Linked DNA regions of Homo sapiens: region 2 is linked to region 1. Evidence: fine-mapped expression QTL. Tissue or cell type: whole blood. Region 1 holds a variant in brackets; the other region holds the start of a gene. All regions are shown on one strand. Distances are from middle to middle.

What was found. PIP is the estimated chance that this variant, and not a neighbour inherited with it, causes the effect.
Region 2: it holds the start of XKR3, and the variant in region 1 is fine-mapped to the expression of XKR3 in whole blood (INTERVAL, PIP above 0.99).

What each region holds. Positions count from the first base shown.
Region 1 is chr22:16,747,397-16,755,580 of GRCh38, forward strand. It overlaps LINC01665 (long intergenic non-protein coding RNA 1665), which reads right to left and starts at 1,042. Exons shown (of 2, transcript NR_134584.1): 1 at 880-1,042; 2 at 1-343. RefSeq lists a silencer at 3,909-4,109. The variant G/A (reference allele first, on the strand shown) is at 4,357.
Region 2 is chr22:16,821,642-16,829,825 of GRCh38, forward strand. XKR3 (XK related 3) reads right to left here and starts at 3,770. Exons shown (of 4, transcript NM_001386955.1): 1 at 3,650-3,770. It also overlaps the pseudogene HSFY1P1.

The sequences.
Region 1 (8,184 bases):
TCCAGTTTTCTACTGAATGAACTGAAAGGCCTCCCAATTCCATATTCAAAAGATTGTGCAATTTCATGATTTGAAAAATTATATAAAGTCCTAGTGAATTAATTCATTCTGCAGCCAAACCCCCAGGAGTCCTGTCCTCAGGACCTCCCTGAGCCGACTTCCACCGAGGGAGGGGGAGCTTCAGGAGGCAGAGCTTCAGGATGCCTGCTGTGTTCTGGGGACATCCTTGTCATATCCGGTTTTCAGCTTCTTCTTGAAGATTGTTTCGTATCCTGGCTTCATTTCTCAGAGAAGAGCCGCGAGGAGATATAACCATCTCCTTTCACATTGGTCTCCTCCCCTCCTGGAAAACAATGAGCTCCTTGTACCTTTTTTTTTTTTTTTGGTTGGAGTGTGGTCATCTTGATTCTACAAAAGAGGTAGCTCAGGATCGGGATGAAATTTCGGTTTCTTTGAGACCGAAGCTTCTCACATTGTCGAGGTCTTCAGAAAGCCAAAGTGGAACCGCCGTGGAAATGATTGACAACCGCCCACATGACCCAGGCAGAGTCGCAGACAGAGGCCCACTAAAGACACGCTGACATGCAAGAGACCGCTTTGTAGCGCACTGGGCACAGAAACACACACGCTCACGGGCACACACGCACAGAGACAGAGAAAGCCAGAGAAACAGAGAGTGAGTGACAGAGAGAAGAGAGAATGGGAGACACAGGCACCCAGACATACAGCAGTGGCAGAGAGACACAACCCCCAGGCAATCACTGAGGCTGCGGGTTTCTGCTCTTTGGGAGAATGACCCTCGGGTGAGACAGTAGTCCTTGGGCACACAGGCAGACCTGTCCTCGAGATCACGGGGGGCACGGCTTTGGGGGAACTCACCCGAACACCGTACGGGCAGGCCTGAGGCTGGGATGCCGCACTGCTTTCCCCGGACTCCGTCTGCTGTTTCTGCATCCTGGTAGGCCCTGCGTGTAGCATGGTGTCCCGAATCTGTTTTGTCGACCCCCTGGATTGGTCAGGCTGGAGCCTCGACCCCGACGCACTGCCACGGAGGGCTCCTGCTTTGTCAAGGCTCAGGGAATCGTCCTCAGCCAACCGTTGGAGTCACCGTCACGGGAGAATGGGCTCGTGCCTCCCGCATGCGCATTGCCCAGGCCGACTCCTGCTTTGCTCTTCAAACTCCGGCTGTGGCCCCTTTAAACAGGTTCGGCGACACGTGGCGGGGGTTCTGTGGCAGTCGCAGTGGCGGCTGGAGTGGGGATGTAGTAGGGGGCGTTTATGGGACTGGGGGCTTCGGGTCCTCCAGGGCCGGACCCCCGGGAGTCCTGTTCTCAGAACCTCCTTGAGCCGACTTCTACCGGTGCAGGGGACCCCGCTTCAAGGCGCCAGCTCGGGTCTCCGGACTCACAGGCTGGCGTGCATTGTGGTGATCAGAGCTCACTGCAGCCTCAATCTCCCAGGCTGAAGCAATTTTCTTGCCTCAGCCTCCCACGTACCTGGGACTACAGGCATGTGCCCCCACACTCAACTACTTTTCTCCAAAAACATTTTTGTACGAATGGGGACTTACTACGTTGCCTGGCTCATGTCAAACACCTGGGCTCAAACTGTCCTCCTGCGCTGGCCTCCCCAAGTGCTGAGATTACAGGTGTGAGCTCGCTCCTGCAGCTAAATTCTTATATCTTAAATTCCTACCTCCCACAAGAAGCAGATGTTAGTCCCACTTATTTTATAACTTTTTGCTGTTGATGTCTCTTTTTGTCCCTGGACACAGGGATTAGTGACCCACTCTCCACCAAATTTCAAATCATTAGGGGCATTATGTTGTGTCCCACGAGTGGCTGAGGCTTCAAGCACCTGCTGCTCTAACCTAGGCCTGCTGAGGAGTACAATTCATCTTGTGTTTCTGTGTTGTTTAACAACCTTCCTGAGCTCCTCTAAGTCAATCCATCCTGCCACAACTGGCAAGAATCAAGAAACTCTCCAAGAAAATGTTTCTCAACCTGCCTGTTGTCAAGTAGAAGAGGTCTGCTGACCATGGCAGGCATGGCAGTGCATGACAGTGAGCGCCCCCCACCGTGTTTGCTATTCACTGCATGTTCCACCTGAACGTTCCCGTCTGCTCAGTGAGTCTTGACAGTGGGGTAAAGGGGACTCACTCTCAAAGACCAAGGCTGACCCTCTCTGAATACAATGCCTTGACCTAGTTACTGTCACTGTGGTTTTGTCTTCAGGGACTAAAAGATACAATAAGAATTTGTTCCTTTAATTGTCCTGTTGATGCACAAAATACTTAATGCTTCTACATAGGTCTGCTCTTGTGCCCCACAGAGCACTAAGGGAAAGTCCCCACAATAAAAGTGCTTTTCACCTGAGCTGCTACGTGTGACAGTAAAGCAGCTGAAGGTTAAAAAAATCAAAGCTCCCCAAATATGGGTATGACAGCTGGTCCAACCTCACGGTCTGTACTTTCCCTCTGTAACAGCATGGATAAATACAGAGATAACTAGCAACTGATACCCTAGTGTGCCAAGCAATCGATGTATCCGTGTGATTAAAAACCAGCATTTAACCATACTCTAGATACACTAAATATCAACCCCACACTCATAGCCTGTAATTCCACTTTGCTTCCAGATGGCAGTTACAATTGGAAAGGAAATACCTAGTTTACAGAAGGCATTAATACTTCATTGTTGCAGAAACCAAACCCTTAAAAAAATGTATCCTGGACTTTCTGACCTGGATAATAACAAACAGTGAAAAATATGTATCTAAGAATACACTTGGAACAGAAATGTGAAAAACCAAAAGTAAGAGATATTATGAAGGATCAAATATAAAATGACCCACTGCTAAAGAGGCAACAAAGAAAATTGTAGAAGAAAATGACAAGAAGCATTATGCCTTAATGAGTTTGTGCTACTATATAAGAAAATACACTAGGCTGGGTAATTTCTGAAGAAGAGAAATGTATTTCTCACAGTTCCATAGGCTGGAAGTCCAAGATCCAGGTGCCAGCAGGATTGGTGTCTGGTCAGGGCCTGACCTCTGCATCCAAGATGGTACCTTGTGCACTCTGTCCTCAGGAGGAGATGCACTGTGCCCTCACATGGCAGAAGGCAGAAGGGCAAAACAGGGGAAGCCCACTCCCTCCAGTCCTTGTGTAAGGACCCTAAACCCATTCGTGAAGATTCTCCCTTCATGACTGAATCACTACCTAAGGGCCCTACTTCCTAATCCTATAACACTGTGATTAATTTTAGGGGGACACATTCAGAACATAGCACTCTATATTCAATTTGTTAAAATTTATCTTCTTGTTTTGCTTTTCTGTTTTTCAAATGGTTTAAAGTGCACAAAATTTGATTAATCATATTCCTTGGCTCATAGCATACCTTGGCTCCTGTTTCACCCTTGTCTGTGCCTGGGCCTCTATGTAAATGTATTTGAATAATGTGGTAATCACTTGTGAACCCACAACACAACCCAAGAACTAGGGTTCTGACCTAACATCTGCTCCTCCTCTGTCCTTTTTCCTGATTTACACCCTTCAGCCCCAGGGTAACTACTACCCTGAATTTATGTTTAGGATTCCCTGCCTTTAAAAAAACATTGTTTTATTGCATATATATGATTGCCCTAAATGGCATATTATTTAGTTTTTTAAGGGTATAATTTATTTACCCATTCTCCTATTAATTTACCCATTCTCCTATCAATGAACATCTGGCTTGTTTCCATATATTTGCTATTATGAATGGCATTACATGAGCATTTTTTTTAATACTTCTGGTACATATGGGCAAGAGTTTCTCCAGGGCCTATAGTAGAGAAATTACTTTGCCGTAACATATGAGAATGCTCAACTTTATAAGATAATCCAAATTGTTTTCTAAAGTGGTTGTTCTCATTTAAACACTCACGTCCTGTATTAGTTTGAGATGATCTTGTTGATCCACAGTCTCTCCCTATTTGGTGATATGGTTTGGCTGTGTCCACACCCAAATCCCAGCTTGAATTCTATCTCCCAGAATACCCACATGTTGTGGGAGGGACCCAGGGTGAGGTAATTGAATGATGGAGGCCAGTCTTTCCTGTGCTATTCTCGTGACAGTGAATAAGTCTCATGAGATCTGATGGGTTTATCAGGGGTTTCTGCTTTGGCTTCCTCCTCATTTTCTCTTGCTGCTGCCATTTAAGAAGTGCCTTTCACCTCCTGCCATGACTCTGAGGCCTCCCCCACCATGTGGGACTGCAAATCCAGTTGCAGTTCTTTTTCTTTACATCTCTTTTTCTTCTCAGACTTGGGTATGTCTTTATCAGCAGTGTGAAAATGGACTAATACAGTAAATG[G/A]ATACCAGTGGTGTGGGGTGCTGCTGAAAAGATACCCAAAAATGTAGAAGTGACTTTGAAACTTGGTAACAGGCAGAAGTTGGAACAGTTTGGAGGGCTCAGAAAAACACTGGAAAAGGTGGGAAATTTTGGAACTTCCTAGAGACTTGTTGAATGGCTTTGACAAAAATGCTGATAGTGTTTTGAACAATAAGGTCCAGGCTGAGGTGGTCTCAGATGGAGATGAGGAACTTGTTGGGAACTGGGGCAAAGGTGGCTCTCATTATGTTTTAGCAAAGAGAATGGCAGCATTTTGCCCCTGCCCTAGAGATTTGTGGAACTTTGAACTTGAGAGAGATGATTTAGGTTATCTGCTGGAAGAAAATTCTAAGCAGTAAAGCATTCAAGAGGTGACTTGGGTGATGCTAAATGCCTTCAGTTTTGTAAAGGAAGCAGAGCATACAAGTTTGGAAAATTTGCAGCCTGACAATGTGATAGAAAAGAAAATCCCATTTTCTGAGGATAAATTCAAGCAGTCTGCAGAAATTTGCGTAAGTAACGAGAAGCTGAATGTTAATCCCCAAAACAATGGGGAAAATTTCTACAGGACATGTCACAGGTCATCACAGCAGCCCCTCCCATCACACGCCCAGAGGCCTAGGAGGAAAAAATGGCTTTCTGGGCTGGGCCCAGGTTGACTGTGCTGTGTGTAGCCTAGGGCCTTGGTTCTCTGTGTTTCAGCCCCTCCAGCCATGGCTGAAAGGGGCCAATATAGAACTCAGGCCATGGCCTTGAGAGTGCAAGCACCAAACCTTAGCAGCTTCCACGTGGTGTTGAGCCTGCACATGCATAGAAGTCAGGAATTGAGGTTTGGAAACCCCCACCTAGATTTCAGAGGATGTATGAAAATACCTGGATGTCCAAGCAGAAGTTTGCTGCAGGGGTGGGGCTCTGATGGAGAACCTCTGCTAGGGCTGTGCAGAAGGGAAATGTGGGGTTGGAGCCCCTGCACAGAGTCCCTACTGGGGCACTTCCTAGTGGAGCTGTGAGGAGAGGGCCACTCTCCTCCAGGCCCCAGAATGGTAGATTCACTGATGGCTTGCACTGTGAGCCTGGAAAAGCTGCAGTCACTCAACATCAGCCCATGAAAACAGCCAGGAGGTGGGCTATACCCTGCAAAGCCACAGAGGCAGAACTACCCAAGGTGGTGGGAGCCCACCTCTTGCATCAGCATGATCTTGATGTGAAACATGGAGTCAACGGAGATCATTTTGGAGCTTTAAAATTTGACTACCTTGCTGGATTTCAGACTTGCATGGGGCCTGTAACCCCTTTGTTTTGGCCAATTTCTCCCATTTGGAACAGCTGCATTTACTCAATTACCTGTACCCCCACTGTATCTAGGAAGTAACTAGCTTGATTTGGATTTTACAGGGTCATAGGCAGAAGAGACTTGCCTTGTCTCAGATGAGACTTTGGACAGTGGACATTTGGGTTAATGCTGAAATGAGTTAAGACTTTGGGGGACTGTTGGGAAGGCATAATAGGTTTTGAAATGTGAGGACATGAGGTTTGGAGAGGACATGAGATTTGGAGGGGCCAGGAGTGGAAAAATATGGTTTGACTATGTCCCTACCCACATCTCAACTTGAATTGTATTGCTCAGAATTCCCACTTGTTCGGGGAGGGAACCAGGGGGAGGTAGTTGAATCTTTGGGGCTGGTCTTTCCAATGCTATTCTTGTGATAGTGGATAAATCTCACAAGATCTGATGGGATTATTAGGGGTTTCGTCTTTTGCTTCTTTTGCCTCCTTCTCATATTCTCTTGCCACTGCCATGTAAGAAGTGCTGTTCACTGACAGCCATAACTCTGAGGCCTCCTCAACCATGTGAAAACCTAAATCCAATTAAGCCTCTTTTTCTTCCCTGTCTCAGGTATGTCTTTATCAGCAGTATGAATGTGGACTAATACATTTGGTATTGTCAAACTTCTTAATAATTGTGGGGAGAATAGATGTGTAGTATCTTGTGCATTTTCCTGATTACTAATGAGGTTGAGAAATTTTTTTACATTTTGCGGGCTTTCTCTTTTGTGAAATCCCTATTGATGTCTTTTCCCAATTTTCTGTTGGGTTGCTATTTTTAAAATTAATTCATAGGAGCTCCTTATACTTAGTTGATCTGGTTGTAATCTTTCATAGGTTTTAGGTACTGCAAATATCTTCTAATTTACAGTTTATCTTTTCACTTTGTTACTTTTATTTTTTAATTTCTATTTTTTTTTTTTTTGAGACAGAGTCTAGCTCTGTTATTCAGGCTGGAGTGCCGTGGCTCACTGCAACCTCCACCTCCTGGGTTCAGATGATTCTCGTGCCTCAGCTTCCCAAGTAGCTGGGATTACAAGTGTCTGCCACTAATGTCAAGCTAATTTCTTGTATTTTTAGTAGAGATGGGGTTTCACCATGTTGGCCAGCCTGGTCTCAAACTCCTGACCTCAGGTGATGTACTATTGGGATTACAGGCTTGAGACACTGTGCCCAGCCTATCTTTCCACTTTTTGATGTAAAAAGTTCTTAATTTTGTGATAGTCAAAATGTCTAATCTTTTTTAATGGTTAAATGGCTTTTTGTGTCTCATTCACTTACATTTTCTACTAAAAGTTTTAAAGTTTTGTTTCTGACATGTAAGTCTTTGGTCCTCTGGAATTTAATGTTTGTATATAGAGTGAAGCAGGAATATAATTTCATTTTGTTTCCTATATCAATAACCATTATTTTTCTATTCTATTTATTGAAATGTCCTTTCTTTCCTTGTTGATCTGCCATGTCACCTACATCACATATCAAAGATTAAATTTGTGGAGATTTGTTTGGGAATTCTCTATTCTGTTTCATTAGTCAGTTTATCAGTGAAGACCACTATTTATTTATTTATTTGTAGAGAGAGACAGGGTCTCACTTTGTTGCCCAGGCTTGAGGACTGATGCAATTGTAGCTCACTGCAGACTTGAACTCCTGGGCTCAAGAACTCCTCCTACCTCAGCCTCCCAAGTAACTGGGACTCTAAGGCATGCACCACCTCATCCAGCTAATTTAAAAAAAAATTATTATTTTTTGTAATGATGGGGATCTTGCTATGCTGCCCAGGCTGGTCTCAAACTTTTGAGCTCAAGCAATCCTCCCACCTCAAGCTCCCAAAGTGCTGGGATCACAGGAGTGAGCCACCACACCTGGCTCCATTTTCCATATTTTAAGACCATTTTTTAAAAGCTGCTCAAGACTGCTTTTTTCTCTTGGTGCTACTTGCAACTCCCTTACTTAGCTTTGGAAATACTCTTAATGAAGAAAATCTAAAGAGTTGAAAAATAAAATATTATTTCTTTTCTTCCAATTGCAAAAGAGCAGACAGCCTCCTGAATTATAAAGTTAGTTTTGATAAATTGGTGAACTGAGAGCATACACAGTATTATTAATTCTGTTCTAATTTCTGCTTCACTGTGGAGTGTCTTCACATAGTCTCAAAAGATTATTGCTATGAAATATTCTTATACATGTAACACATAACCTCTATAATTCTGCAGTTGTACTTGGCTGTCTTACCTAATACTCAGTTGCTTTGCTTCATAATATTTAAATTGGCATCTTTATTTTCCAAAATGCATAAATACTAGTATAGATTTTTAGTTAAGCCAGAAGAAAGTAGACTTTATTTACTAACATAACTTATATGTAAAGGTTTAATAAATCTCCCTGCTTCTTTAGCATCATAACAACCACTGAAAATAATATTTCTATAGCAGTTGGGGGTAAATGGGCAATGACTTTTGTGGCCAGAGGTGAATGGCCCAG
Region 2 (8,184 bases), 74 kb after region 1:
AGACAGTGGGAGGGAGTTTCACTGATACGTTCTGCATCAGAATTTAGAATTTCAAAAGATTTTGTTACAAGAATAATCAGAAGAATTAGATTCTAACTCTGTAGGCAGCAGGTATCTAGGAAACCTCGTGCTTCAATTTCATATAAATTGAATTTACACTACATCTTTAAATTTTTTGGACTTCAATATGATTATTTTATGTGAATTTCAGTTCAAACAAACTATGCTATAGCTGTTACATGGAGTTACAGTTTAGTTTTATAACATACTCGTTCTGGGCATTTATTTTTATTATTTTTTGCCACCTAATAAGAAATTTTAAAATCACTATTAAAAACTTTAATAAATACATGACATTCTTACTGTATCTACAAATTAATTTATCAAATGGCTGTGATAGGTGCCACAAAGATATAATAGATCTTATAAAATGACAAAAACTGAAAATGGCAATTTTGTATGTTAATTTTAGACTTTTTTCTTTAATCAAATCTTTGAAAAATGCAATTGACTGTTGAAATAATAAAATATTGTGGTTATATAATTTTAAAAATGCATGTAGCACAGAGGCTGAGAGGGGATAATGGTACATGTTATTTTAGTGTTTTAACATTGTCCATAGAGAAGTGTAATACCTCTTCAAGGTAGGTTGTGGTAAATTTGAGATGTACACTACAAACCTCAAAGCAAGAACTAAAGTAACAGTAACAGCTAAGAAACCAACAAAGGCCATAATAGGAAATTAAAAAAATAAATAAATAATAGAAAAGAAGACAGATAAGAGAAAATGGAACAAGTAACACATGGAGAAAACAGAAAGCTACATCAATCAGCACATTAACTGTAAATGGCTTATATACCACAACTAAAAGGTAAAGCCTATAAGAGAAATAAAAATAGTAAAATCCAGTTATATGTTGTCTCCTGGAAACCCATACTTGACATAAAGACACAATTACTACGGAAGAGATGGAATAAAGCTGTGCACTACTAACCCTAGTGATAAGACTGCTGGAATGGCTATATTAATATCAGACAAAGTAGAGCAAAAAAAATGGAAAATATCAACTGATGCTCAAGTTGTTCTGGTTAGCAGTACAAACTCTGGAACCAGACTTTCTGAGTTACAATACTGTCACTTCTATTTTTTTCTTTTAACTATAAAATAAATGTCCACATTGCTAACAAGCATATTAACTAGCTTATTATGCTTGCTTCCTTTGCTTTTGGTTGTGGTGGGTATTTATTTGTTTATTTTTTAAGACATGATCTGCCCTTGTCACCCAGGTTGGAGTGCAGTGGCGTGACCTAGACTCACTGAAGCCTCAACCTCCAGGACTCAAATGATCCTCCTGCCTTAGCCTCCCAAGTAGCTGGGACCACAGGTGCATGCCACCATGTACACTAATTTTTGTGTTTTTTGAGGAGATGGGGTTTGACCATCTTCCTGGTCTCAAACTCATGAGCTAAAGTGATCCACCTGCCTCAGCCTTCCAGTGTTGGGATTACAAGCATGAGCTACCACACTGCCAGAATCCTGTCATTTCCTTGAATTGCAAAATTAAAACCTCATAAGCTACAGTTTCCACATCTGTACAATGATAACATCATTAGAATCTTCCTGGGGAGATAGCAGTGTAGAGAAAATAATACATCGGCAGCAGGAAGAAGAGTTCGTGGTACACAGTGAAGTTTGGAAAGGTGTTCCTATTGACATCATTATAATCATGACCACCATCATCATTTCTTAGAAACACAGAATTGACAGGACTCACTGATTAAGAGTATTTGACAGTGAAATATGAGAGAAGAGATTGCCTTGGTCAATTCTTGAGTATCCATCTGGTAGAGCTTGGAAAAGTGGTGGAAGCAGAATTTTTGGGAAAAACATTTAAAATAAACTTAAACACCTTACTTTTGATCTGCGTGATGTACAGAACTGGTGATGAACAGGGCAACCTTGTCACTTTAAAATATATCTGATTGCCAATTTGCAGCATCACAAGACTAGTAAACATTTACTGTGAAACATTCAGAAAATACAAATTACCAAAAGAATAGAGTTTACCTATTGCTTAGTTTTCTCCAGCAATGGAGAGATCAATAATAATAAATCTGACACCAATTCAAAATATGAAACTTTAGGGTACTCAAGTACTAAAAGGTTTTTTTTTTTTAATGTAAACAAACTCACAGGTAACAGTGTCCAAAGTAGAACATTAGAAATGAGAGATTCTTGATGTAACAACAGGTCCAGGTGATGATAATTCAAGGCTGCTGAAACAAGTGAATGAAATCTTGAAGGGATCTTAATGATGAGAACTAATTCTTGCTTGTTGGAGTGATGAGACAAATGGTCCAAAAATTAAAAAACAAAACAAAACAACAACAACAACAAAATAATTTGTTGCTTGCAAATAGGCCCTAGAAGCAATATGAAACAGTCTTCAAATGAATAGATGAGAAAAATCGCATCTGACCTAATTAATTCAATGTCACAAAAAGAGAGACAATGTGTTATTTAAAGGGATGAGACAGAAAAAACACTCTTGTAAATAAAGAGAGAAGAGTACAATGAAGTACCCATTTCCACCTACGAGGAACGGGCATGTAAGAAAATACGGGAATCATGTGCAGATGATATAATTACTTATCTAGAGGCACCATAAAAATGTTTTTCCCCAAATAATGTCCATTAGGGATAAAATTTTAAGAAAGAAAGGATGTTACTTTTAAAGACAATTGTTAAATACCTAGTAAATAGAGTAAGTGAGTAAGAAAAGCAGAAAGAAAATAAGTTGCAGCTACCAGATACCCACAAAAAGAAAGAAAAGGGAAAAAGAAGGAATGGAGGGAGAGAGCACAAATGGAAAGAAAAAGGGTGGGAAGGAGGAGGGAGAGTAGAGAGAGAAATTACAGAAGTAGGCGAGGGGTATAAAGGAAAGCATGGAAAGACAACTGCAGAGACATCAGAGTTTCTGGGCCTCAGGATAGGGGAAAAATACATCCAACATTATAAGAAATATATCCCACTCTCTCCCCAGCAATCCATACATCGAATATGATATTAATGCAGATTGCACCTTTCTGGCTGCCCCAACCACTTCCTTCTCCTTTGGACTCACAGAAGGACCTCTATAATTTATTTCTGGAAAACACTTATGAAAATATGCACATATGAAAAGGGCCACAGAGTTTAGAAATGGGTCTTCCAGAGTCTAAAATTCAAGGTAGAAAGTGAAAGTGAAGTCACTGAACAATGGAATTTAGGCATGTGTTTGTGATTAAGTGAACTTGTTTCTTGTACTCACATAGCCAGTGCATCACTGCATCTGAATAACAAAAAATATGGTAGATTTCTGCCCCTTTGAGATTTCACTTAAATACGAAGCACTTTCTCCTTCTGATGTTTAAAAACATGCTGAAATTTGTAATATATTAGTAACAACCACTGTCCCACCCAAATGCTAAGCAGCTGCTTCTCTTCTCTGAAAATCAGAATCAAGAGAGGGAGTTTCTAGGCTCAAGACTCGGGAAAAGCCACCCCTGATATCCAGAGATTTATGTTAAGATCCCCAGCTGAGACAGGCAGAGGTCAAGGTAGGCTGAAGAAGCTGATCTGAGATGGTCGAGGGCTGCTCCTACTTACCTTGCCTATTTGCCACCCTCACAGTTTTGAAACTCGTTCAAAAAGTAAATGCTTTTGTTCACCTCTTTAACAGCACCATTTCTGGTCTCGTTTTCAACACTACGTCCTTTGCTTTGCAGGTAAAATTGCTTATTTTCTTGCCTTTTTATGACTAAAGTAGGCTTGCAGTTTGGAGTCAGGTGACTGCACTAGCTGAGTCATCTTCCCTTGAAAACACCAAGGCATTCTTCCTCCCTACAGAGTCACACATCTTAGTTCCCCAAAACGCTCAGCCACAATTTGACTTCGATTGTCCTACATTTAAGGTGATATTTTTCTGATTCTCCCATTAACTCCCTCTTCTCTTCGCACCCATGGCCCATCTTTTGCTGCTGTCTAGTAGCCATTCATCCCCTCCCATCACAAAAGAAGTCTGTACTTCCTTCAGACAGAGCAACAAGAAAATTCCCCAGAAAGCAAACAATTAAACAAATTTTAATTTTGCCTTTTTTAAATGAAAATTCTGTCAAAATTGATGAACCACATCTGGTAGGAGCACCTGTTTTATTTTCACAAAGAGTTTTCTGATCTGGACATTTTTGTTACTTACTGCTAATATGGAAAATTTTGAACTAAACAAAATACACCCCCAAAACTTAAACTATGTTAAACCAAGACAAGCTTCTAACAATGACACCTCTTTCCAGTATGAGAGAACTGCCTCCTACAGTATAAGAAATATCAAAATCATTATTTTTTTATTCCACACATATTCAACACTTAAAGCCAAGGCATTAGAATTTTAATATACCACCTCTCAAGCATGAACATATAAAAATTCTTACTGTAAATGGGGCATGATTATTTTTCAAAGAGAAGAAATATTTTATTCAATTCTAAGATTAATTCACAAATTTGACTCCTGTTTTATAATGATAACTTTACGTTGCAGGACACAGAGATTATTCCTTAAGAAATATTTTTTAAATAGATATTTGGCTCTTGGAACCAAATAATAAAATTTTCTGCTTAGACATACATACAAATTTACTTTACTTAAAACACTTTCTTGTTATTATTACATTTTTAAATCTCCCACTCTTTGGGATCTCCTTATAAGTAGGTCACTTGCTTTTAAAATCTTACATAATTAACATGTCAGATATTTACAGACATACCAAATGAAAGTATTATTTATTCTATGATATGAATAAAAAATGTTTTGAATAGATACATACATGAATAACTTTTTATTCTGAAATCTAATCAGTTTTATTCATATTTGATTTTATTTTAATTTTTTAAGGTATGTTTCACATAATACAAAATTACATTATTCAAAATTATATTATTAAAACATTTCTATCATCAAACAGGAAACCCCATTATCTACTTAACAGTTCTTTCTATTCCCCAGCCCCTGACAACCATTAACCTACCTTTTGTCTATATGGCCATGTCTTTTTACCATATATGTTTTACACTGCATCAGTTTTCAATCCAACATGCCAAGCTGAGAGAGTTTTTAAAATATTTATTTTTATTTTTTTGCACCGTCCAATTACCAGGCCCTATGCTCCTCGCACCAATCTAGTAAGACTGTGTGTGTCAAGGAGAAAATTATGTTTATTTCAGGGATTGAGGATATTAATTAATTTATTTATTTATTTATTTATTTATTTATTTATTATTTTCTTAAGACAGAGTCTTGCTCTGTTGCCCAGGCTGGAGTGCAGTGGCACAATCTCAGCTCACTGCAGCTTCCGCCTCCTGGGTTCAAACGATTCTTCTGCCTCAGCCTCCCGAGACCTGGGACTACAGGCACATGGACCACACCTGGCTAATTTTTGTATTTTTAGTAGAGACAGGGTGTCACCATGGTGGTCAGGCTGGTCTCGAACTCATGACCTCATGATCCGCCTGTCCCGGCCTCCCAAAGCGCTGGGATTGCAGGCATGAGCCACCATGCCTGGCCCTCCTTATTAATTTAAAAGATTCTGCAGGCATGAAACTTTTGCAGAATAAACTGTGTAAGTAATCATTCTATATTTTATTTTTACCAGATACATTTCTGAGACTGGAAAGTAAACAGTCTTGGCCAAATTTTTATGTTTGTTGCTAGGTGACCAAAGTCCTCTTGTGATGCCATTGCTACTCAGGTTGGAAACCACTGTGGTGATCTCAATTACTTTACCTGAGTAGACTACTGAAGCAGCATTTGAAGCTGCAGTCTTGAAACACATGCAGGCTGGAAAAGTCGCTAAAGAATTACTTATTTGAGATGGCACATGTTTCTGCAGAAACTCAAGATGTTTCTCCTAAAGATGAATCAACTGGTTCAAAAGCCTCCTCTGGGTCTCCATTGTGTGAACACATAATCCCTGGGGATTCAGACTTAAGGTCAATGACTGAATCAATGATTTTCAGGTTTTGCCACAAGGATCCTTGATAAAAAGGCCACATTATACTTTATGTCTCTGAGCCAGATAAAGATAATGATTTTCCTTCTCTGACCTTTCCCAGTAAACTTTGGAAAATAGCTGAAAGTGACCAATTCAAGTCTAATTCATAGGATAAGAATGAAACTTGCATAGTGACTAATGAAGAACTCTTCAAGAAAGAAAATTTGGAAATAAAGGCTCCTTACAGAATATTTCAAACTGACAGTATGAAAATCTTAATTTGACAGCTCAACCTTTATGGATTTAGTAAAATTCAACAGAATTTTCACAGATCTGCTTTTCTAGCCAACTTTCTGGCAGAAGAAAAAGAAATTTCTGTTTTAAGCAAGGTATTCAAAATATTTCAGTTACCACTTTGAGTATATATGTAATTTCATTTTATATATCAGTAACTATGTTAATACATGCAGTAAGATCAGATTTTAAAAATTATATCAAATATTAAGGTAAAAATTACTTAATTTTTTTGAAATTATTGAGTGCAGGTTGAGCATTAAACTTTCAGGTTTTAAGAAATGTTGCTAACAACATTCAGTCTTACCAGTGAACTCCAAATAAAGATACCAAAGCCACTTAGTGAAATGTTACTATTAAATGTATAACATGTTTTCACCAGAGGGCTTCAAAACTTGAGTGTTTTTTTTTCTCAACAAGCATGTTCTTAAAAATAGTAAACAATGTTCATTCATTATTTGATGATATTAACTTTGTGTGATAAAACAGAAATCTGAGATTGTATGGGTTATGTTTGTTATTGTTACTTGCCTCTTGGTTTAAAATGGCACTGAATTACCTTCTCCTTGGTTTTAGTTAAAGTTGTATTATCATCCGAATTTCAAACGTGGCTGTCCCCAACTTTTAATAAGAACGAAAAGAAGAATTAAGATTAAAAACACTTCTCTTGTATCTACTTCACTGAATATTTCAAGAAACACTTTAGAGCAGGGGCTAACACAGATAAACATAATTCTGTCTTAGCTGCTGAAACTAGTGAAGAAAGTTCATTTTCAACATCTACAAATTTAAATATGACTCTAACAAGGAAATCTTCTGTCAGCCAGGGCATTGCTGGTTCACCTGACCCAATTAGAAGTGGTTTCCCTCCTCTTCCATTTCAACCTCAGTTGGACAATCAGAACAAATTACAACAAATCAACATGCTATTTTAAATCAATTGACAAATATTCATATGCACTCTCATAGCACCGACATGTAAGCAAATGGCCACGTTGTGAATTTTGTTACAACCACAGCTTCTCAATACTACATCATATCTCCCTCCTTTGGGGCTGATAGTGAAACCACCTACTTTTTCCCACCAGATATCCTGAGGTATTAGCCAATGAGGCTCCTCATTCTAACCTGCTACCAGCAGGCAACCTGTGGTTGTAAATGACTGCGACAGCTGATACATCAGTTGCCTTTCGTTACAGGCCAGCTCTTCAACCATCTTTACTGGAAAAATATCACCCTAGTTACAACTGATCTTCCACCAAAAGAGTACCAGATTATGCATGACAACAGAGACTGAAATTTATGTTGACAAGAACATTAAAAATTCCTGCAATAATCTTACTGAACAATAAAATTACATGTTGACCTTTATGGTTGCTTTTCCTTTATTTCTAAAAATACAGTTAGGAGTAAAATGGGGCTTTGTTTTAGTGGCAGGCTACTGTACCGCATTTAAAAAAAAATATGTGCTTTTTTATCATTTGATGGGAAATTTGACATGGCCCTTTGTAAGCTAGTTTATTTAATTATCTAAAGAGGAAGAAATAATAGAGTGTTTTAGTCCATTTGCTGCTGCGACAACACAATACCACTGACTGGGTAATTTGTAAGGTGACTTATTTTGCTCATTATTCTGAAGGCTGGAAAGTCCAAGGGGCTGCATCTGGTGAGATCTTCTTTCTATGTTGCAACATGGCAGGAGGCCATCCTACGGTAAAGGACATGTGATAAACAGAAAATCAGGGCCAAACTCATCCTTGGTTCCAAAGCCCACTCACACAATAACTAGCCTGTTCGCCAGATAATGCTATCAATCCCGCCATGAGGGTGCACACTCACGATTTTATGGTTTCTAAGTCC